Regions from separate parts of the Homo sapiens genome. Here regions 2 and 3 are each linked to region 1. Evidence: fine-mapped expression QTL. A gene starts in region 1. Each other region holds a variant in brackets. All regions are shown on one strand. Distances are from middle to middle.

What was found. PIP is the estimated chance that this variant, and not a neighbour inherited with it, causes the effect.
Region 2: its variant is fine-mapped to the expression of KAT6A in whole blood (INTERVAL, PIP 0.93).
Region 3: its variant is fine-mapped to the expression of KAT6A in whole blood (TOPMed, PIP above 0.99).

What each region holds. Positions count from the first base shown.
Region 1 is chr8:42,047,241-42,055,421 of GRCh38, reverse strand. It overlaps KAT6A (lysine acetyltransferase 6A), which reads left to right and starts at 3,435. Exons shown (of 17, transcript NM_006766.5): 1 at 3,435-3,521; 2 at 6,120-7,044. The coding sequence starts at 6,445. It overlaps KAT6A-AS1 (KAT6A antisense RNA 1), which reads right to left and starts at 3,672. Exons shown (of 2, transcript NR_136589.1): 1 at 3,437-3,672. RefSeq lists silencers at 537-831, 2,792-2,951, 3,142-3,771, 3,872-4,341 and enhancers at 2,301-2,821, 2,822-3,343.
Region 2 is chr8:42,100,376-42,108,556 of GRCh38, reverse strand. KAT6A-AS1 (KAT6A antisense RNA 1) reads right to left here. Exons shown (of 2, transcript NR_136589.1): 2 at 3,570-4,493. It also overlaps the pseudogene RPL17P30. Among named protein-coding and RNA genes, the nearest start is that of AP3M2, 49 kb to the left of the region's middle. The variant TTAATGTC/C (reference allele first, on the strand shown) is at 3,620.
Region 3 is chr8:41,953,034-41,961,214 of GRCh38, reverse strand. KAT6A (lysine acetyltransferase 6A) reads left to right here. Exons shown (of 17, transcript NM_006766.5): 9 at 5,804-5,919. Among named protein-coding and RNA genes, the nearest start is that of KAT6A-AS1, 95 kb to the left of the region's middle. RefSeq lists an enhancer at 4,178-4,227. The variant A/G (reference allele first, on the strand shown) is at 4,033.

The DNA of each region.
Region 1 (8,181 bases):
GAGAGAACTTGTCATCAGCAGACCTGCTGTAAAACAGGGGAATTATTCAAATAGAAGGAAAACCTTCAGACAGAAGCACAGAAATGCATATTGGAATGAAGAGCAATATAAGGATAAATATGGAGGTTAATCTAAATGAGTACTTATTGTACAGAACAATAAGTATAAATTCTTGTGTGGCTTAAAATACACACACAATTAAAATCCTTGACGACAATAAACACAAAAGGGAGATGGGTAGGTGGAGATACAGTATTTTAATGTCTTAGCATTCCCGGGGAAGTGGTAAAAGTAATTATTTTGTATAAGATCATAAGTCAAAAAGCAATGTTGTAATCTCTAAAACTAGTAATGTATAATTTAAAAATTAATAGAGGGGGTTAATGATATAGTTAAAATATTTTAATTAATTCAAAAGAAGGCAAAAAGCAGAGAACAAGGAATGTGAAATAGGTGATCCAAAATAAATGGTAAGATGGTAGGCATACATCCACATATACCAGTAATTATATTAAATGTAAATGGACTAAAAATGTTTCCTGTTGAAACCAGGACAGAGCAAACTTCCAATTTCAGGCTGGCATGGACTCTGTATAAGACACAAGTACCAAGTACAAGTGAAAAGGCAGGGATTCCTAGAGCAAAATATGCAAGGGGGAAATAACCTTTAGTTGCCAGCTCCACAGGGCTGAATCGTGAGTAAAGTTTGAGCTAAGAAAAACTATCCTTTCAGAGTGCAGATTGCTTTTTAACTTGCAAATGATGAGGACTTTAATCCGTCTTTGTTGCAAGATTTTTATTTTGAGAAGACCTCCTGAATGTGCCATTTAGTTATGCAAATGTAAAGCAGAGACTCTTTATGGAAGCTGTGTGAAAAGCTCAACTGTGCTTTGTTGTTATAAATTGTTTTAAATTCTTGCTACTGTTTAATCCCCAGTTTGGTCTTTTCACAGGATGGCTGTGGCTAGTTTTCTTCCAAATTATCCAAAAGTAAACACAACTCATCTCTGTATTATTTTTCTTCTGAAGGCCACACACTCTAGTCTCACATGAAGAACTCATTGTCTTTGCATTAATATGACTTTATCTGCCCTCTTTGGGAAATAAAAATCTGCCTATTCTACTAAAAGAAAATACATATATATATATATATATATATTTTTTTTTTTTTTTTTTTTTTTTTTTTTCCTGGAGGTGATTTCATTACAAACAGGGACCATTTTACCTGAGAATGTGTCTATCTGATTCATCTAGGATGAAAGAGATCCTTTCTATTGGATTATCATGTATTCCAAATTTCTCTACTGCTTTGGAGATGGGGCTTGGAAGTAGGCGATGAATGGCAACTCAGTCAACCTCACTACATTACACTTCTGTTTCTGTCAGTGTCAGGATATTGATTAGGCTGGACCATGATCTGAAAAGTTACGTTATTCTTACTGAATGGTCCAGAGTCTACCGTATGGAGGGTAGGGCTATGGATTAGAGTGGAGACGGGATAGATAGAAAAGTTTGGGTTCCCTCTTGCTGTGTCTCTCAGGCTGGAGTGTAGTGGCGATCATAGTTCACTGCAGCCTGGAACTCCCGGGCTCAAGCAGGCCTCCCGAGTAGCTGGGCTACAGCAGCGCCCCGCCACAAACGGCTTTCTTAACGGCTTAAAAAATTGTTCATTCACGAGCAACATTTTTTTATTTTAAACCGCCTACTACAGTACTTGTACAACATTATTCTAGGTGCTGGAGATGCAGAGTCATTATAGGAGAGCATTTACCAGTGAATGTATTCGGAATATATATATATATATATATATATCACATGTAAGTGCAAAATGACTAGAGCAAATGATACTACTACAGAAGTTCAGAAAAGGAAGTCAGCATGGAAGTTAAGGCAGTGGGTGAGAGGGAGGCCCTTAAAAGCTAAAGCTGAGATAAAATGAGGTATTGCGGGCGACAGTCTAGGCGGGGTGTGTCGTATGGGGTTGGGGACAGGGCAGATAAAGGTCAGGCAGCAGGATACACGTCCATGTCAACGATTAAACATTTAGTGTCTTTTTCATGTCTACTGTCTTTCTAGTGAATGCAGAAAAAAAAAAAATGCATGACTTGGCCAGGTGCAGTGTCTCAGGCCTGTAATCCCAGCACTTTGGGAGGCCGAAGAGGGCGGATCACTTGAAGTCAGGAGTTCGAGACCAGCGGCCTGGCCAACATAGTGACACCCCGTCTCTACTAAAAATACAAAAATAAGCCAGGCGTGGTGGCGGGCGCCTGCAGTCCCAGCTACTCAGGAGGATGAGGTAGGAGAATCGCTTGAACCCAGGAGACGGAGGTTGCAGTGAGCCAAGATCGCACCACTTGCACTCCAGCCTGGGCAACAGAGCGACACTGTCTCAAAAAAAAAAAAAAAAGTATGACTCAGTCTCTGCATCAAAGAGTTTAAAGTAGATGAAAGGCAAGACAAAGAAACGTCCATACAGCCAGTAGTGGACAGGCAGGCCATGAAGAACCGCCTGCTCGTGGTTCCAACGCCCTAAGTATGGACAAGAGTTCCGCACAGGGCAAGAAGGGAAGACCGGCTTTGGAATAAGACAAATCTCAGTCCCAGGCTCAGGTGCGCGCCACATACTAGCTGTGTGACCTTGTCCAAGTCACACGACCCAGGTCTGTGGAGTCTCCCATAAAATGGCTCTAGTGAGCTCCAAGAACCCTCTCAGCTGCTGGGGGAGGGAAGAAATGAAGTCACTGCTGAAAGGGGTTAAGACGGGTGCTTCTGGTTCCACCCTCTCCCCAACTCTTCCCACCGACACAGGAGAGCCGTCGGGGGCTGAGGCGAGCTGCCAGGGGTGAGGACGGGAAGCCGCCTCCTCTCCGCCCCCCAGGCCCCGCCCTCGGGCTCCGGAAAGTCGCTGTGCAGGCAAATGAGTGGGGAGGGAGGGCTCACTAACTGTAAACAGACGCCGCCGAGAGTTCCCATCCTGCGTGGCTGCCGGATTTCCGTGCCACACTGAAGCCACCCCACCCAGACTCCTGCCCTCAGTTTCCCCAGCGGTGGCATGGGGTGCACCAGCTCCTCCTCTCCCGGGTCGCCGTCTGACTTAAACGCGTGAGACGGGAGAGGAGGAACCCCCGCTCCCCAGCCTCCAGCCCCACCAAGTCCTCCTCCTCCCCTGGCTTTGGCCTTTTGTACCGGCCCCACGTGACCCCGCCGGCCGGCTCTTCCCTGCTGCCCCGCCCCGCCCTCCGGCCTTTCCCGGCTCTCGGCCCAGCTCTTCCCGCTCTCGGCCGCCCCCCACCCGCGCTGCCGGGCCTCCGCCTCCCCTCGCCGCCCGCCCAGGCTCTTCCAGCTCCCTCCCCCAGGCCGCCGTTCCCTCGCGACGCTCCCCTCCCCCCGCGGCTGTTCCGCCGCCTTGCCTCCCCTCCCCCCGGCTGGAGCTCACTGTCTCCAAGATGGCGGCCGTGTCAGTTTGGGGCATCTCCGCGGTCCGGCCCGGGGCCCCGGGATCTCGGCTGTCCTTCCTCCCGGTAAGTAGCCGAGGGGCCGTTCCCGGCCGCCCCCGGCCGCCCAGCCCGAGGCCGAGCCGCTCCAGGGCCCACTCCGCTGCCTCGCGGGGTCGGCGGGCCGCTGCAGGCCCCGCCGCGGCCTGCGCCGCCTCCCGCTGCTCTGCGCCAGGCCTCGGGCTGGGGCGCCGTGGCCGCCCCCTCGCGCCCGCCCGCTCGCTCGCTCGCTTGCTCGCTTGTTCGGCGCCCGGCTGCCCCGGCCCGCGGCCCGCGCGCCGCCGCCCGGCCCCGCGCTCGCGGGCCCCGCGCCCCCGATCCCGCCGGCCGGGCCCGCCCTGGGGGAGCCGGCGGGTGGGCGGGCGGCGAGCGGCCCAGGCCGCGGAGCCTCGGGCTGGCGGAGCCGGCGAGCCCGCTCTCCCTCGGGGCGCGCCCACCCGCCCGCCGCGCGCGTGCCGGCTGTGCCGGGCCGGGCCGCTTCTCCCCGCGCTCGCGGGCGCTCGGGTTCGGGCTCGGGCTCGGGTTCCGGCTCCGGCTTTGGCTCCGGCCGGGGGCGCGGGGATCCGAGCGGGGCTGAGGCGGCGAGCGGGGCTGACAGGCCGGCGGGTGTTGTGGTGCGAGGCGCAGCACGTGTGGTGTTGTGTCTGCCGGGCTGTCAGCCCAGCCGCCGAGGGGAGGCCGGGCGCCTGTCAACCTCGCGGCTTGGCCCGGTGCGCGACTGTCAGGCTCCCAGCAACCCGCGCCGCCCTCGAGCCGGCCCCCAGAGCTTAGGGTGCGGAGCTGGGCCGGGGCTATGCACCGCTCTGAACTCCTTCACGTGATTTCATTGTTAACTTGTGCTCGGGGTCTGTTTCCATCGCGTGGAAACGGTGCAGCGCCCCGTCGGCGAGCTGCCGGGCTGTGCAGATCCAAGTTTTTAAAGTTTCTCGCTCTTTGAAAAGAGAGCGCGAAGACGTGTTTAGGGGTGGGGAATGGGGACGGGAAGGACTGTCGGAAGCGAGTTGCGCTCGCTCTAGCCGCTCGTGTACTTTCCGGGAGTTAAGATCCGAGGCTGCAGGCGCTTGACTTTCCGAAGACCTGGAGACTGATGACAATCCCGACTGGAAAGACAATGAGTGACTGTCACTCATTCTTTTACCTGCGAAGCTTAGTCAATTAGGACGTTCGTTCCCAGCTTGTTAAACTCAGGATGTAGCTTCTCATTTAGTTTAGACTTAATATCTGTATAATGAGCTTACTTGGAGTAATGATACTCTGATTTCTATCCTCTTGAGACCCTCACCAAATTGAAGCATGATTCTCCCAGGGGGCTTCTTTTTAGGCAGCTGATTTAAAAACAAATCTTGGCTCAGGTTTGAATGTTTGCTTCACTCTTTTCTTTCCTATCAGAGTTAATAGTAATATCTCTTTCCTAGTGTGTATTAGTTTTCCGTTTGATTTTAATGTCACTACCAAGAATAGTTGCTGTGGGAGCCATTTGTCTAGCATTGTTTATATTGTAATGCAAATGATCTCCAGAATGAGAGCAGAAGTTCTAAAAAACACTTCAGTTAAACTTATTTTTGGAGGCAAAAGAGTTAGATTCAGAATTCAGTACTTTAGTGATTAAACAAGATTGCATCTACCAGATTCTTTTATAGGGATACTGACTTTGATTCAGAGAGACAGTACATTTCTGTTTATGTTTTATTAATGTTCGTTTCAGGACAGCAATCTTGAATTTATATCTTTATTATTTGGGCTTCTCTTTAGTCCTACAAGTAGCCAGTGTATTTCTTTTTCTGTACCGTCCGTTTGATATGTAGTATGTGCGTTGACCCCAGTGATTCTGGGCCTTCCTCATTTCTAGTTTTCCTGTCTGAATTACTTACACGCAGTTTGACAGTTGTGACTCTCTTCAGCATATGAATAGAAACATCTTAGTTTGGGTTAGGAGAAGCTATCAGCATGTAATTCTTAAAATTTGAATGAAAGTGGATTATTGTTAAATTCAGTAAGCACTTTTACTCTAGGCTATTTTCAATAGTATTTTTGTTTCCATTAGGAGAGATTAAGGTAATACTGTACTTAAATTATAAACTGGGTGTGCATATTGTATTCATTCTTTTCATGTAAGAACTAAAATTTTCTCAGTCGTTTTCTGCCTTATTGACTGTTTTTGTCTACTCTGAATGTCTAGAATTTTGAAAGATGAAAGATTCACTTTTACTTTCATTGCAGGATTCTTTCTACTAATCCAGATACTTGTTGAAGTGCTGACTAGTTTCTTGGGGAAAGATGTCAAGGAAGAGTTGAAATTCCTAGACTGGTGAGCAGAGATTGCGGAGTACAGAATAGCCATCACCCACTCTGGTTAGTGGTAGCTTAAAGGTCATTCTTAGAACATGTCATCGTGTTTCCTCATTGTATCCTAATTACTCATCTTTTTTTTTTCTTTTCTTTTTTTTTCTTTTTTATCCCAATGGTTTACATACATGATTGTTTTGGAATATTAATAGATAAGTTTGGAAATTCTTAAGGGTGCCTAGTAAACACTTGCTGTTTGATTGCTTTATGATGAGGATGCTTATTTTCATTCGAAATAGGTCTTGGTAGAAAACTGACCTTATTTTCATTGCTTTTCAGGCATAAGATGCACATTTTTCTGCTCTGGAGCCGGGAATGAAATATTCTTGAGTTCTTACAACTTTATGACGAGACCCATGTGTGGTGCTATTGAGAAATTCATTGGGAAGTTGGAAGACATTTCAATCAACAGGTTGTTTTGGTTTCTATAGTACAATTGGGGTGGCATTCTGTTTTGTGAAAGGAGGAAGGACTTAGGCCAGAAAACTCATATGCTATGGTTAACTGGTTCCCAGCCTCCGAGAATCTTGTTTTCCATGGTGTAAAACTTACTCAGCATCAGGATAAGGGATAACGACTCTATGGATATACAGAATCCTTCACCATGGTAAAACTCGCAAACCCGCTTTATACTGAGTGGATTTTGGAGGCCATCAAAAAAGTGAAAAAGCAGAAACAGCGTCCTTCAGAAGAAAGGATATGCAATGCTGTGTCTTCATCCCATGGCTTGGATCGTAAAACTGTTTTAGAACAATTGGAGTTGAGTGTTAAAGATGGAACAATTTTAAAAGTCTCAAATAAAGGACTCAATTCCTATAAAGATCCTGATAATCCTGGGCGAATAGCACTTCCTAAGCCTCGGAACCATGGAAAATTGGATAATAAACAAAATGTGGATTGGAATAAACTGATAAAGCGGGCAGTTGAGGGCTTGGCAGAGTCTGGTGGCTCAACTTTGAAAAGCATTGAACGTTTTTTGAAAGGTCAGAAGGATGTGTCTGCATTATTCGGAGGCAGTGCTGCCTCTGGCTTTCACCAGCAGTTACGATTGGCTATCAAACGTGCCATTGGCCACGGCAGACTCCTTAAAGATGGACCTCTTTATCGGCTCAACACTAAAGCAACCAACGTGGATGGGAAAGAGAGTTGTGAGTCTCTTTCCTGTTTACCTCCAGTGTCCCTTCTTCCACATGAAAAGGATAAGGTAAGAATGGCATATGCTTCGGGGTTTATAGAGCTGATGATATAGGATGCTACAAATTCACATTTCTGGGAAGTTATATTCAAGTTTTTTGTTTGGGGACTTCTGTGGAGTGATCACCTCTGGTTTTTTATTGGTGAGTTGTAGCTATGAGAGCTTCATAGATTTGTTCTGGTACTTTGAAATATTTGAAGCCTAAGATTAAAAATGTAGAATGTTAATCTGACTAAAAGAACTTATTTACATTACAATGAAAAAGTGACATATGAGTTTAAAACTTTTTTTTAAATTTTTTTTTATTATTTTGCTTGAGGAGTACTCCAGCGTGAGACTTTAAAACTTTAACTAAAGGTTCTTAGAACACCTTACTACTGGAAGTTGATGAGCAGCCAAATCATGGAGACTTGAATTTGAAACAAGCAGATGACTCTGAGAACATTTTTCTGTTTTCCATTTTGTTGCAGATTACTCGTTAGACAGAAATGAGACAGATTCTCATGACCCATAGGCGCAACTAAGCAAACTTAGCAATTCTTGTTTCTGCTGTTTGTATTATAGCTTTCTGTCATGTATTATGGCTTTGCATATGATGAAGTCCTAAATGCTATTTATGACAGCTGTAGTTGCATGGGACAGGAATACAGTATCCTAAACTAGAAAAGTTCTGGAGGGTCTGGAACAGTAGTTCATGCCTGTAATCCCAGCGCTTTGGGAGGCTGGGACAGGAGGATGTCTTGAGCCTAGGAGTTTGAGCCCAGCCTGAGCAATATAGCGAGACCCCACGTCCACCAAAAATAGAAAAATTAGCCAGGTATGGGCGCGCCTGTAGTCCTAGCTACTTGGGAGGCTGTGTCGGGGAGGATTGCTTGAGTACAGGTGTCTGAGGCTCCAGTGAGCTATGCTGTCACCACTGCACTCCAGCCTGGACAACTGAGACCCTGTTCTAAAAACAAAAAGAAAGGTAAAGTTCTGGAGAGTTGGGAGTTTTGATGCCCAGATGTGTACTTTACTCTGTTGTGTTTTAGGATGTTATTGTATATAGTTGAAATTATGACTTCTTAAACAGTAAATTTTGGTGCTTAAATAGATATTTGGAGATTAGGAGAATTTTGTTAGTACCTGTTTTTTACATTGACCTAG
Region 2 (8,181 bases), 53 kb before region 1:
AGGCTGAGGCAGGTGAATCACTTGAGGCCAGGAGTTTGAGACCAGCCTGGCCAATATGACAAAACCCCATCTCTACTAAAAATACTAAAATTAGCCGGGTGTGGTGGAATGTGCCTGTAGTCCCAGCTACTTGGGAGGCTGAAGCAGGAGAATCACTTTAACCTGGGAGGCAGAGGCTGAAGTGAGCCAAGATCGTGCCACTACACTCCAGCCTGAGCAATAGAGCAAGACTCTGTCTCAAAAAAAAAAAAAAAAAAAAGGAGAAATGTCAAAATCTTGAATCTCTGAGATTTTGGGCAAGAGGTGTGCAAGCACCCTCTTTACATTATTCCTTTACTTGCTTAGTTGTTTGGGTGGGAGGGAGTTTATTGCCTGAAATCATTCCATCTTTAAATACTTCCAGTTCCTTTAGCCTTTTTGGAACCATATACTTTTCTTGACATGCGTTGCGTCCCCTGAGCCTGAATTCCTCTTGAGTGCTTGAGATGTGCATGTGTCCCCCTATGGAGAGGCTGCCCATCAGGATCTTCCCAGCCGGTGAATCTTGGGGAAACACCCCAGGGAGTTTACATGTACAGAACTTCTACTCATGTTAGCAATAGCTCCCCACTCTTAAATACGCCTCATCAAGCAACAACAAAAAGTCGTGTTCATTCGTGAAACCAAGGGCAGCTGGGGGCTCCTGACTTGGACACAGCACAATCTAATGAATAACTGCCCTAAATCAGAGGCTGCTCTCTATGAAGAGATATCTAGACAAAGTGTGGTCTAGTGGGCTATAAATCATGAATACGAGAGTCCATGCAACACAATAATGGCTAAAGTTTCGTTTTGTTTTGTTTTGTTTTCTTGAGATAGGGCTTCACTCTGTTGCCCGGGCTGGAGTACAGTGATGTGATCTTGGCTCACTGCAGTCTTGACCTCCGGGACTCAAGTGATCCTCCTGCCTCAGCCTCCCGAGTAGCTGGGACTACAGGTGCATGGCTTTTAAAAAAAAAAAATTTCGTAGAGACAGGCTTTTGCCATGTTGTCCAGGCTGGTCTCAAACTCCTGGACTCAAGCAATCCATCTGCCTCAGCCTCCCAAAGTGCTGGGATTACAGGTGTTAGCCATCGTGCCTGGCCGGGCCAAAGTTCTTTGGCTTAGTTCAGCCTGTATTAGTTTAGCCCACATAACCTGGCACAGATCCTCTGGATCCTCACTTCCTTCGTGCCTCCTTGCACCTCTGCCACCATCAGCCCCAGCCAGTATAGCCTGTATATCTCCTGCTACTGCCCACGCCGGGGATTTGCTCCTGTTCTCCCTGCCTCTGGAAGGTCTTCCTCCCTCCATGCATATTCTATTTATAAATAATTTGTGGCTGGGCATGGTGGCTCACACTTGTAATCCCAGCACTTTGGGAGGATGGTGGTGGGTGCCTGTAGTCCCAGCTACTCAGGAGGCTGAGGCAGGAGCATGGCTTGAACCCAGGAGGTGGAGGTTGCAGTGAGCTGAGATCAAGCCACTGCACTCCAGCCTGGGCGACAGAGTGAGACTTCATCTCAATATAAATAAATAAATAGTTAACTGAATTCATATGTTCTGCTCTGACGTCTTTGCCAACCTTTGTCTTTTTTCTCCCGTTAAACTAAAATCAGAAAAAACTGCCCAATTTGGCCTGGTGTGGTGGCTCATGCCTATATTCCCAGCACTTTAGAGGCCGAGGAGGGTGGATCACTTGAGGTCAGGAGTTAGAGACCAGCATGGTCAACATGGTGAAACCCCATCTCTACTAAAAATACAAAAAAAAAAAAAAAAAAAAAAAGCCAGGCATGGTGGCAGGTGCCTGTAATCCCAGCTACTCAGGAGGCTGAGGCAGGAGAATTGCTTGAACCTGGGAGGTGGAGGTTGCAGTGAGCCAAGATTGTGCCACTGCACTCCAGCCTGGGTGACAGAGCCAGACTCCATCTCAAAAAAGAAAAAAAAAAAGCAACAACAACAAAAAAAACCTGCCCAATTTACACCATGTGCAAATGTGCTGATAACTATCATTTGCTGAGCATTTACTTTATGCCATGCATGGTGGGGATCTGTACAATCTAATTAAAAATATAAAACCTTATGAAGGTAAATATATTTGTTTTATGTTTGAGGAAACTGAGGCTCAGAGAGATCACGTGGTTCCCAAGAGTTACAAAGTGAGTGAATGTTAGAGCTGAAATAGGATCCCAAGACTAACCCAAAGCCTGTAATTACTTTTCTATGATTTGTCTATGCAATAAATAAGCTACTGTATATAAAAATAATTTTTCGAATGTAGAAATGTAGTGTTTATTGACATACTTGATTTGTTTTTATGACTTATAAAGATTAAAAACATTCTTTGAAGAAAAGCTGCCCGAAACTACCAAGTTATAACTGGATCTGAGGTTTCTCCTCTTTGGACACATCTCTTCTTTGACCTCTAATCAGAAGTGTCTCCATGTCAGGGTGACGGTGAGGCTGCCCCTAGATCTGCTTGGTGGACAGAGCCGGGGAATGTGTGTGTCTCTGTGTGTGCGTGTGCACACATCAACATCTATATTTATTTTATTATCCATCTGTATATACTGAAAACCATGAGCTCACACCAATATCTCTAATTTTTTTTCTTAAGACAGGGTCTCACTCTGATGCCCAGGCTGGAGTACAGTAGTATGAGCTCAGCTCATTGCAGCCTCAACCTCCTGGGCTCAAGCGATCCTTCCACCTTAGCCTCCCAAGTAGCGGGGACTACAGGCACACGCCACCACATCCAACTAATTTTTTACATTTTTTGTAGACACCGGGTCTCACTATGTTGCCCAAACTGGTCTCAAACTCCTAGGCTCAAGGAATTCTCCCACTTCAGCATCCCAAAGCACTGGGATTATAAGGGTGAGCCACCATGCAAAGCCCAATATCTCTAATTCAGTCTAATTTCTCCCTTCTCATTTTGTATCTCCCTTTTCTGATCCCTAGAAAGCTGCTCCTATTTTTCTGAATATGTATATTTACTTTTGTATTTTTTTATTTTTGAGAAGGATTTTTGCTCTTATTGTTCAGGCTGGAGTGCAGTGGTGTGACCTTGGCTCACAGCAACCTCCGCCTCCCGCGTTCAAGCGATTCTCCTGCCTCAGCCTCCCAAGTAGCTGGGATTACAGGCATTCGCTACCACGCCTGGCTAAATTTTGTATTTTTACAAACCACATAGAGATGGGGTTTCGCTACATTGGTCAGGCTGGTCTCAAACTCCTGACCTCAAGTGATCCACCCGCCTCGTCCTCCCAAAGTGTTGGGATTACAGGCGTGAGCCACGGCGCCCAGCCATGAATATGCATATTTACTTTTGAATCAGGCCACGCTTGGGTGTGTGCTCTGTCTCCTAATACCTGCACCTCCTCACCCTGCCAGAGCTCAGACACTGTGTCCAGCCCCAGCCCCGGCTACACTGTATGAGAGCCTGTAAGTCTCAGAGCTGGAAATTGAACCAGGCAGATCGACTTGAGCCTCCGTGATCTTAGTTTTTGGACAGAATTATTCAGCAGAGAAAAAAAGCAAAAAGGCAAATATGTCTCTCCTTGACTTTTTGAACATATGGAACACAGTTATAATAACTGTT[TTAATGTC/C]CTTGTCTGCTAATCCTGGCTTCTGTGTCAGTTCTATGTCAGTTTTGATTGATGTATTTATCTCCTTACTATGGGTCATATTTTCCTTCTTTGCATGACTGGTTATTTTTTATTGGATGTCAGACACCATGAATTTTACTTCGCTGGGTGCTGGATATGTTTGTGTTCCTATAAATAATTGTGTGCTTTGTTCTGCGATGCAGTTAAGTTTGTTGGAAACAGTTCAATCCCTTCGGGTTGCTGTCATGATTTGGTGGGGGATTCTGGCGCTGTGCTCAGTCTAGGCTAATTATTCCTCACTGCTGAGGCTAGTTTCTTCTGGGAAGCCTCCCTGGTGTCTGGGACTCTTCAGGCTTCTGCTCTGGCTGGTGGAAACAGACCCTGGTCCTGGTCCCGTGTCAGCACTGAGCACTCTTATCTTGAATTCTGTTGGGTGGTTCTGTCCCCAGCGTCTGATCGTTCCCTGGCACATCCGCACTGCTCAGCACTCAGTGAAGGCTCAGGAAGACCCTCTGCAGATCTCTGAGCTCTCTCCCTCTCTCCACGCAGCTCTCTCTTCTTTGGGACTTTGCCCCAAGAACTTTAGTCCCTGTGGCCTTTCTCCATTCTCAGCTCCGTCTCCCTGACCCAGGGAATCCCCTGGGCTCTGCCTCAGTCTCTCTTGCCTGTGCCCTGGCCTGGGAACCCTCACAGGCTGAGGCAATTGTAGGGTCAGCTCATTTCCCTCCTATCTCACAGGAGTCACTGTCCTTCATTACCTGATGTCCAGCATCTTGAAAACCAATGTTTTGTATATTATGTCTGTTTTTTGTGGTTGCTGTTGTTTCAGGTGGAAGGGTAAATGCGGCCCTGGTTGCTCCATGGTGACTGGAAATGGAGAAATAGCAATACATATTTAAGATAAATGTATTTTTAAAAATTCTTAAACTCTTAACCCCCAACATATTTCTCAATTCAGATTCTATGACAACAACTGGTATTTTAAAGATCCCATAAAGATTCCAAGTTATGAGAGTTAAAAATGATCCTAACAGATAGGAAAGGGACTCTCAAATCCTGTTTAAAGAGTGGTGGCTAGAAGTATTCCTGACTCTGTTTCTGATGGTTAGTGCAACTTAAAGAATGTTTAATAATTCTTACAGAATATCGGCAATATGCCTATAACTATGCTCAAGAATTAAGGGAGTGCCGGGCCCAGTGGCTCAAGCCTGTAATCCCAGCACTTTTGGAGGCCGAGGTGGGTGAATTGCTAGAGGTCAGGAGTTCGAGACCAGCCTGGCCAACATGGTGAAACCCCATCTCTACTAAAAAAAAAATACAAAAAATTAGGCTGGCATGGTGGCAGGTGCCTGTAATCCCAGCTACTCAGGAGGCTAAGGCAGGAGAATCACTTGAACCTGGGAGGCGGAGGTTGCAGTGAGCCAATATTGTACCACTGCACTCTAGTGTGGGTGACAGAGTGAGACTCCGTCTTAAAATAATAATAATAATAATAATAAAAGAAGGGAGTAGTCCTAACCTTAAAGAACTTGCAAATTTTTAGGGAGACAAGACATTTACACATGTAAAATGAAATCACAGGGTAGAATTGCTAATGTTTAGACGACTGATTAAGACAGTGAGTATAAAATACGATATGCTAGAAAGTATCTTGTTCCTGATGATAGACACTGGTAGGCTGTTCTACCCCGCCCACCTTTCTTTTCAAAACACTTCCATTCAAATAGATTAACATTCCCACGTTACCCGCTTCATTTGACAAGAACAAAAAGTTGACATGCCATAGCCGATACGGTAGATTGGTTCTCTCAATACTTATTTCAACCTCTCTTCTAGGGTACCTTCTTGCACTGCAAAAACAGGAAAGCTAAAACATGATTCTTCCCAGACTCCCTTGCAGCTGGGGGTCTGGATGGGATTCAGTTTCCACCAATCAGATGCCTCTTTTTTCAGAAGTGGATATGCAACTGAGTCAAGTGGGAAGAAAGGCAGCAGGCATTGGTTTCGTGGGTGTGAATTGCAGCAGGTGCAGCACGGCTTTGGAGCTGACTGTTGCAGTGGTGTTGCTGATCTACAGGACACAGCCAAGGCAGTGTGTTCCTGATCTTCAAAATCTGTGAAAGCAATATGGTAGCAGCCCCCCGGGACTCCCGACAGGCTAAGCTTATGATGCTCTATACAAGAGATCCTCCACCAGGGGCTATTTTGCTCCCAGTGGGGGCATTTAGCAAAGTCTGGACACATTTCTTTCTTTTTTTGAGATAGGGTCTTCCTCTGTCACCCAGGCTGGAGTGCAGTGGTACAATCATAGCTCACTGCAACCTCAAACTCCCCAGCTCAAGCAATCCTCCCCGTCTTAGCCTCCTGAGCAGCTAGGACTACAGGTGCGTGCCACCATGCCTGGCTAACTTTTAAAACTTTTTTGTAGAGATGGAGTCTCCCTATGTTGCCTAGGCTGGTTTTGAATTCCTGGGCTCAAGTGATCCTCCGGCTTCAGCCTCCCAAATTGCTGGGATTACAGGCATGAGCCGCAGTGCCTGGCCTGGAGACATTTCTTATTGTTGTGACTGAGGGTGTGCTATCTGTATCTAGTGGGTAGAAGCCAGTGATGTTGTGAGACATCCTATAATGCACAGGACAGCCCCCTCTACAAAGAATTATCCTGTCCCAAATGTCAACCATGTCTGTCCTAGAGCCTGCGTTTTGCATGGTGGTGTCCTGATTCCAAAAGTTTCCAGTAATGATGAAGTAGCCAGGTGGTTTCCTTTTTTTTTGAGATGGAGTTTCACTCTTGTTGCCCAGGCTGGAGTGCAATGGCGTGATCTCGGCTCACTGCAACCCCCGCCTCCCGGGTTCAAGCAATTCTCCTGCCTCAGCCTCCCAAGTAGCTGGGATTACAGGCATGTGCCACCACGCCCAGCTAATTCTGTATTTTTAGTAGAGACGGGTCACCATGTTGGTCAGGCTGGTCTCGAACTCCTGACCTCAGGTAATCCTCTCACCTTGGCCTCCCAAAGTGCTGGGATTACAGGTGTAAGCCACCGTGCCCGGCCAGGCAGTTTACTTTTATTTGCATTTATGTTACTGGATTTATTCCTGAGCCATAACTTTTTGTTTCTTTGGTTTCTTTTGGCATATCTTTTTCTTCTGTGCTACCTCCTCTTCCAGTTTAGGAACAATTTGTTCTTTTTCAGGAAGGGTCATCTCAGAATGTCAAGAGGCTCATCTGACCGTGAGCTCTCTCAGTTTGATAGGCATCTTGGGGGCTTTGTTCGCCTTCATGTGCTCAATGACTAGAGAATCTACATACAAATTCTTAAGGTCAGCATTACTCTCTGCATCTTGGGACAGCAATAATTCATCACTCTTTTTGGGCCACTGACCCTGCATTACCCCCACGGTCTGGCCTGGGCACTGCTGTCAACTCCACCATGGTAAGGCAGCATGGCACACATTGCTTCTATATTGCGGCATCTTTCAGATACTGGGTAGCTTTTGGTATAGGTAAAGCCTTGGTGGCTTGGGCAGTTTCACTGGTATTCCTGAAGTGAACACAAAGATTGGATTTGTGCAATCTTGTGGAGTTTTCTGGGTCAAGTGAGTAATGCACCATTTTCAGAGATTAACTTAGGCCACTTACGGGAAAAGCAGAGGGTCACTTGGGCCCTGTCATTCTGAGACTCATTCCTAGAGGTCCAGCCTAAAGCCTGCTTTTCCAACTGCAAACATTTCTGTAAGCATCTAATTCCTTGGATTAAATTCCTTTTCTGTTTAAGATACCCAGAGCAGTTTCTAATCTGTGATTGAAGCCTGACGCACATGCCACTGCAGGAACTGATCCCCTATGATCTCGCCATTGAAAAAATGCACAAAATGTAATTTTGTGCTAACGAACCATGAGAAGTGTTAAGCTCTTGTTTATTTTTTTGTCTCTCTCCTTTAACTCATGGAGGCATCTGTCAATCTGTATGTAGAATTATGTGTAATACGCTTGCTCCAAGGTTTTTAAGATAGCACAAAGCAAAGATACCCAGAAAGCAAGAAGATGCAAGGGACCTTTAACGATGTGTCAGGAAAGAAATTCCTGACATTTTCAAATATAAACAAACAGACAAACAAGAATGCACGAAGGCCTGGAGTGGGCATGAAGGCTTGCTGGAGGCAGCACTGGGCAGGCGGGGAGAGCAAGGACACTGGTCAAGAGCAGCTGTTTGGGTTAGAACGCTGGCTCTGTGTCCTGGGGAAGTTGATTAACTTCATCTATAAGTTGGCAATTGATAATAGTCTCTATGTCATAGGGACAAGTAATCCATATATGTAAAGCATGCAAATGCTGCTTGATGCATAATAATACCTTTTTTTTTTTTTTGACGGGGTTTTCACTGTCACCCAGGCTAGAATGCAGTGATGCAATCACGACTCACCGCAGCCTCCACTTCCTGGGCTCAGGTGATTCTCCCATCTCAGCCTCCTCACAGGCATGTGCCACCATGCCCAGCTAATTTTCTGTATTTTTTTTTTTTGAGACAGTGTCTTGCTCTGTTGTGCAGGCTGG
Region 3 (8,181 bases), 94 kb after region 1:
AAATTGCAGAAGTTTTCTTTTGATTTTGTCCAGTTTAGTGCAGTAGGAAGCAAAAGCATTGGCTGAAAGTGAAGGTGGAGTAAGCAGTGTTGGAGGCTTGAGCAGAGGAGAAAGGGTGCAGTTGTCTTTCAGAACGGGAGAGTGAATGGAGTAGGAAGCATCAGGACCTGCTTGAGGTTTGTGGGTAGGTGTATAATGTGAGACTGGGTAGCATGATTCTCTGTTTTTCTCCACCCATATTCACATTAAGGTAATAACTTCGATTATGTGAAGAGTTGAATTTAACAGGGGTTAGGATTTTGTTGTGAAATTAGAAGAGAAACTAGAGAGTTAAAGGTCTATGCAAAGGGTGGAATTACAGGGAAAAAGACCTTAGAATCTAAGCTGCGTAGAGAGAAAGGAGGGTGTGGGGAGAGTGGAAAGCTGATGGAAGCACTGGATTATGGGTCCTCCGGATGGAAAAGGTAAGATGGCCGAGGACAGAATTCTAGATTTTGTCAATATTTAATGGTAAAAGAATTAGCAAAGGAGATGGATAAAGAGAAGTCTGAGTGTAGAGCAAAAAGGCTTAGGAAAAGGGAAAGATAGGTCACAATATCCAGAATCCTGAAATTTAAGGAGTCCTGAAAATTTGAAAAAAAATAATTGTGGTAAAATATACATAATGTAAAAGTTATTTTAACCAGACTTTTTTTTTTTTTTTTTTTTGAGACGGAGTCTTACTCTGTCACCCAGGCTGGAGTACAGCGGCGTCATCTTGGCTCACTGCAAGCTCCGCCTCCCGGGTTCTCGCCATTCTTTGTATTTTTAGTAGAGACGGGGTTTCACCTTGCTAGCCAGGATGGTCTCGATCGTGATCCGCCGGCCTTGGCCTCCCAAAGTGCTGGGATTACAGGCATGAGCCACTGCGCCCGGCCTAACCAGACCATTTTTAAGTGTACAATTCAGTGGCATTAAAGACATTCACCTTGTTGTGCAATCATCACCATCATCTATTTCCAGAACTTTTTTATCTTGCAAAACTGGAACTCTGTACCCATTAAACAACTCCCAACCCCCCACCCCTACCCCCACCCCTGGTAAGCATCATTCTGTCTTCTGCCTTTATTAATTTGTCTACTCTAGGTACCATAAGTAGAATTATACAATATTTGTCCTTTTGTGTCTGGCTGTTTCACTTAGCATAATGTCCCCAAGGTTCATATGTATTTTAGCCTGTGTCAGAATTGCCTTCCTTGTATTTTTTTTTTTTTTCTTTAAAGACAGAGTCTTGCACTGTTGCCCAGGCTGGAGTGCAGTTGCGCGATCTTGGCTCACTGCAACCTCTGCCTCCCGGGTTCAAGTGTTTCTTCTGCCTCAGCCTCCCGAGTAGCTGGGACTACAGGCATGTGCCATACACCCAGCTAATTATTGTATTTTTAGTAGAGACGGGGTTTCACCACGTTGGCCAGGATGGTCTCAATCTCTTGACCTCATGATCTGCCCACCTTGGCCTCCCAGAGTGCTGGGATTACAGGCGTGAGCCACCAGCGCCCAACCATTGCCTTCCTTTTTAAGGCTGGAGAATATTCCATTGTACGTATGTACCACATTTGGTTTATCCATTCATCTGTCAGTGGATACTTGGGTTGTAAATAGTGCTGCTATGAACATGAGTATGCAAATAGATACCCATATACAAAGAACTGCTTTCAGTTCTGTGGGGTCTATAATCAGCAGTGGAATTGCTAGATTATGTGGTAATTCTGTTTACTTTTTTGAGGAACCATCATACTGTTTTCCACAGCAGCTGTGCCATTTTGTATTCCCGCCAGCAATGGGACAAGGGTTCTGATTTTTCCACATCTTCACCAACATCTGTTATTTTCTGGTGTTTTGCATTTAAAAATAATAACCATCCTAATGGGTGTGAAGTAGTATCTGATTGTGGTTTGATTTACATTTTCCTAATTATTAGTGATGTTGAGCATCTTTTCATGAGCTTATTGGCCATCTGTATATCTTCTTTGGAGAATGGAAAGAAACTTTTCCAACTTTTTTTTTTTTTTTTTTTTTCGAGACAGTCTGGCTCTGTCACCCAGGCTGGAGTGCAGTGGCGCGATCTGGGCTCATTGCAAGCTCTGCCTCCTGGGTTCACCCCATTCTCCTGCCTCAGCCTCTGAGTAGCTGGGACTACAGGTGCCCGCCACCAAGCTCCTCAGCTAATTTTTTGTATTTTTAGTAGAGATGGGGTTTCACCTTGTTAGCCAGGATGGTCTCGATCTCCTGACCTCGTGATCCGCCCACCTCAGCCTCCCAGAGTGCTGGGATTACAGGCGTGAGCCACCACGCCCGGCCTTTTCTAACTCATTTTGCAATAAAGTCCCACTTGACCTGAACTGAGTTACTGACAAAAACATGATCTGAGCTGATGTGAGACTATTTGTATTCCTTACTTATGCCAGTTAATGTGAATATTCATATGCTTTGCTAAAGAAATTTTAGTGTGTCTGATTATGGAGTGCTGCTCCAAATCCTACTAGGGCTATACACATGCATGTACTATACACATATATGTACTAATACTTTTCTAAAATCAGAAAAATTCAGAATTCCAAAACACATTCTACTCCAGTCCAAGGGTTTTGGGTTAAAAGTTTGTGGACTTGTAGCTTCATTTCTTTGGAAAACCAAGTTCCCGTTTTTAAAAACTTACCCATAAACTTTGGGAATTTAGGGAGGAATTAGTTGAGGGCTGTCGTTACTTCCGTCACATCTCAACCCATGTCATTCTTTTCTGTCTTTATGCTTCACTCGCTGTTCCTGCCCGGTGCTTTTGCCTCTTAACCTGAGGCTTATCTGAGGCTTATTTTTTCATCTGCAGAGTGGGTATATTGTTTTCTACTTTGAAGGATGGATTGTGGGGACCAAAGGAGGTAACGACATAAGGCTCAGGTCAGAGTCTAGCACAATAGGTGCTCCACGAACATGATTTTCTCTAGTCCTTAAATTCATGCTCTCTCTGTTGTGGAGCATGTGAATTCATTCTTTCATACCTCTTTCATCATGTAACTTTTAATCCCTAATGAATGGAATTACTTACTGTAGTGTTTCTGTGGGAAAATGTTCAAATGCCAGAAAGCCATCTCTTCTCCCCACATTCCCAGCCTCACACTGATAATAAAGGGGTACCTCCCTCTCTCCTCAAAACATTGCACCCCCTTGGGGAATGGAGAGGGAAGGGCAAGTGAGAGCGCTCCAGTGGACAGATGGGGGAAGGCAGCAGCTCTGTGTTTACAGAAATTGTTAAATTATTTACACAATTTTGGTGTCCCTACCAGATCCAGAGTTGGGGATACTGCAAGAATGGCCTTTTTTATGTTACAAACTGGAATTAGATGAGTCATTTAATTGAAGCTTAAGTTTTTGTAGAAGAGTAATACTCTTTTCATATAAACTGGTGGTAATAAAAGCTTTATTATCTAGCAGTAGGCATAAAGTTTTCTTTTGGTTTAGCCCAATTATTAGTGTATTTAATCCACCCCCTTGCTACCCCCTGTTAGTTATCTTAGATTAAAAGGTCAATTCTAGCCTGGAACATACGTCTTCTTTTAAATAATTTGGCATATTTAAATTAGGAGGACATGAAGTGGCAGAATTTGAGTTAAACATTTAAATATATTTTGTGCCCTTGATTATATTAGACACCTGCTGCTTTGGAAAGTCACATGTTTAGCGAAAACGTACTTTGGTTGAAATGTTAAAATAAAAAGACCTAGCAAAGGTAACCTTGTAGTTCAGATATGACAGTTTGATTTTGGCTAGGACTGGAATGAGTGGTTTCTGTGTAGCCATTTCTTCCTCCCTGTGTAGAGAGCCTTGCTGATTTCTAAATCTTCGTAAAAGGAAACACCCTTGCTGTGGAGGCTTGCTCAGGGGAGCTGGGAGTGGAGGCGGGCTCACACATGAGCGCATGTGCAGGAACGTTTCACGGTGCAAAGGTTAAAGGCGGGTGTGGGCAGAGGGGAACCTACCACAGGTCCCATTCTGGAC[A/G]GACGTGCGCAGTTGTGGTGATGTGCAAACAGCTGTACTGGAACTGGATATCCACTTTCACATCGGGCATCCGCCTAGAAGAGCAGCGGGCAGCTGATGGGAAGACCCTCAAACAACAGACAGTGCCGCAGCAGGTGCATGACTTCAGCTTTTGGGCTTTCTATCTGATCCTTGCCTCAGGAAGTTAGATCTGGTTTCTGGTATTTAGTTATTTTGAAAGTTTCCTATACTGTTGTTATTACTTTGAGTTGTGAAGATAGATGAAAAGATAGTACTTTATGAGTTAGAGTAGTTGATTCTAGAATGTAGTTTAAAAACAGCCTTTAAAAAATCTTTTTACAAAGTTCTGTTTGGGTTTTGAGAAATGAAAGAAATCTTATTTTAACCCTGTATTATGTATTCTTCATTGTTTTTGGTTTTGTATTTGGAGGAGCCCCAGTACTTGGTGGTGTTATAACACAATTCATCCCACAAACAGATCTTTGTCTTTTGTTTTGAGGTGTCTAAGGAAGAGCTTGAGGTTTCATTTGGCTACATTCCAGTATGAAACCTGAGATAAGTCCCTTGGCCTTTTATAAAAGAGAATGGTTAGAAAGACCAGAAGGTCTCTAATGAGTTATGGTGAAGAGGCTTCTTTAAACGGATTTATATAAAACCAATGAATAAAAATTTCTTTTAGTTTTGTTATAAAATATGTATGTGTGTCTGCATGCTCCAACAAGGGATTTTTACTAGTCTCTTAGTGGTCTTTAAAGCATAAAATTGAAGGATAATTTCAGTTATCCTTTTGGGGAAGAGTTATTAATGCTTGTTTTTGGTTAGGCTAAACTCTTTTGTCTTTTTCTTGTCAGTTAGTATTTGTAGAGCATCCATGATATATCTGCACTCACACACATGGACATGAGTGTGTATATGCATCTGTTGCTAGACTGGGTGCAGAGCAAGTCATGTTGCCCTTGAGTTAACATGTTAAGACCCTTAACAGCCTTTATTTTCTTGAGCTACGTACTTATGTTTGAATTTCTGATCTGGAAAGTCAGGGAAGTCATAAAGGCTTTAAAAATTATTCTCTGTTTAGATAATGTAGTTCAGACTATTGCAGGGATGAGGGGTATAGAGATTGTTTTCATTGTAAAGAGAAGGCAGAAAAAAGAGAAGGTCTGTATATAACAGAGTGTCTTTCTTTGGTTAAATCTATGCAGAGCTACTAATGAAGGGAATTTTAGGCATAGTATGAAATGAAGACTCTCTTGATACTTGTTTTGTCAGATTCTTTTTGTATTTCTCTTAAATATCTACTTTCCCAAACTAAAAAATCATCCTTTGTGTGCTTACATATTCAGTAGGGCATCTCCATTGTTGTCAGCGGAGGCAGTGTGGTAGGACTTCAGCAAATATGCAGTGTCCCCCTCCCTCACTTGTAAATTATTCTTTATCTTATATCACCAAGTATCAGCAGTTTCTCTTTAATATTAAGTCATTAAGAGTGAGTTTAATTGAGGAAAATATTTTTACTGTTATTAAATGTAGAAATGCAGCAACACCCAATGCATTTGGTTCTAAGAGATTTATTAGCATTTTTATTTTTCATCTGGGTGCTCTGTTTAAGGAATAATATAACTTATTTCAAAATATGTTAGCTTGTTCTGGCTTTTGTTTTTGTTTTACTCCTTTGGAGTCCTGAGAAGACAACATTTAGATTCAGAACTTTCTTTGTTATCTCAGTGTGTCTAATTTAGCTAACTTTTGAATGTATTTCTTGACTGCACAGAAAGTTGGAGTGACTGGTCCCCCTGATCCACAAGTCCGCTGTCCCTCTGTCATTGAGTTTGGGAAGTATGAAATTCACACCTGGTACTCCTCCCCATATCCTCAAGAATACTCAAGGTATGTTTTGAGAGACCCTTGACCTTCTGTTTTGAGATCCATAGAAGTCTGGAACTGGAAGGGATCTTGAAGATGTTTGAGTCCACCTTATCCTTTACATTTGAGGAAACTGGGGGCTTTTAAATGTCCATAATAGCAGCGGCTTTGGCAGCCACTTCATCCCAGTTTGCTTTAGATGTTCTCTTCTGTAACCTCTCAGACGCTGATGTTTAAAATGAGAAACCCGAATGCATGGTCACAATAAAAGGGGAATGCTTTTTTATTTTTTTTTTAAGAGAAATTTGTCTTCACTCCTATCACTAAGAATTTTGAAAAAGAGAAGAACTCATATATAAATTAATATAAAGTTTCAGTTGATTAGTCTTTGATGTAAATAAATATTTATAATTTGACAAACTTAATAAATGGTTTGTTTTCCCAGAAATAATTGGACAATTGGTGTAAAAATTATATATAAATAGTTTGGGCTTCCAGATATATTAATAAACATTGATCACTCACCAGCTTGGTGGAGCTAAAGTGGTTTCATGACTCAGCTCTGAAATTGGTAAGTTGTGTAACCTTAAAAGCTGCCCAACTGCTCTGTGCCTCAGTTTCCTCATCTGTAAAGCAGAGATAGTAATAGTACTTACTTCGTGGGGATATTGAGGACATTAAATGAGCTACAACATGTAAATCACTTAGAAAATGGTAAGTGCTCAATAATGTCAGTTATTATATTTTTTCTTTATGGTTAAAATTAAAAGATGAAATGAGATCAAAAAATTAAATACTAGTTAATTGTAGTGACATTAATGCTCTCTAATCTATAAACTACTTATGCCTCAGTTTCCCATTTAGTAGGGTGTTACAAGAAATAATACATCATGGTGCTTTGTGGGTTAAATACATGTTCAGAATATTCTCATCATGTAAGTTTTCACCCATGTAGTAACATTGCCTGGCCAAAATATTAGCAAAATTTATTTAGTACCTTACAATATGTTGAGTGCCTTAACATGGGTTGTTGCCAAGAAACTAGGAATAGGCCAGTATAGTTGTTAAAAGGGCCATCCAGTAAAACTTATTTATCTTTTTACTTTTTCTTTCCATATAATAACTTGCTTCTCTAGTCTACAGTCGAAGTAGAAAAATAGGGGTAAGAATGCCATTTCAGACACTGACCTCAAAGTGACAGCTAACAAAAACAGAAGAAAAAGCAAAACCCCAGGAAACTAACACACAAGCTCATGAAACACAGCAATTGAGGGCCATTTACTGTGGGATCAGTTAGCCCCAAACACTGTGGTGTATCTTTAAGGAAGCACACTGTTTCATGAGCTGACAACAATTAATGTGACTTTAAGATAAGGTTACATTGTATTTGCATTTCCATATTATACATATATATTATACATGTATGTATTGTATATGTATATATGTTAAAGGAAGGCAGGAACTTCCTCAACTACCTACAGAACTCAGCGTTCAAGTTAACTCATTCCTCAGGAATTCTGAATAGCCAAGATCTTTTATGACCGAGAAGAAATACGCCAAGGACACGCCTGTAATCCCAGCACTTTGGGAGGCCGAGATAGGCAGATCGCCTGAGGTCAGGAGTTCAAGACCAGCCTGGCCAACATGGCGAAACCCTGTCTCTACTAAAAATATAAAAATTAGCCAGGCGTGGTGGTGGGTGCCTGTAATCCCAGCTACTCAGGAGGCTGAGGTAGGAGAATCGCTTGAACCTGGGAGGCGGAGGTTGCAGTGAACTGAGATCGCGCCATTGCACTCTCGCCTGGGCAACAGGAGCGAAACTCCATCTCAAAAGAAAAGAAAATAAATATGCCAAGGAATTAATTTTTTCATCAGGTTTAAAATAAGTTGTTATGATCATTTTTTAAGTGAGCTCTTTGCAAGCTGCCCAAATCACAAGAGCACTCAACTTAGAAAAGAAAGCTTTTCCACATGTCTGTCAACTGTTCCGGAGACTATAGTACAGATAGATGGAAACCACAGGCCCCTTGTCTACTCAAGGTGGGGAGAGGAAATAGATTCAGGAATGGAAATAGAGGGCTAGCATTTACTTTTGTTCAAGAGAATGATGAGAATGGAATCATAAACTGTTTTCTTTTAAGATAGATATTTAAAGGATTTATTGAAAATGTAGCTTTTGTTCTGATGAGATTTTCATTAGAAACAGGTGTGAGGAGACTAGTTATCAGTGAAAGAATAAATAATGCCATCAAAAAATAACCAAAAAAAGTATAATAGGAACCAGTA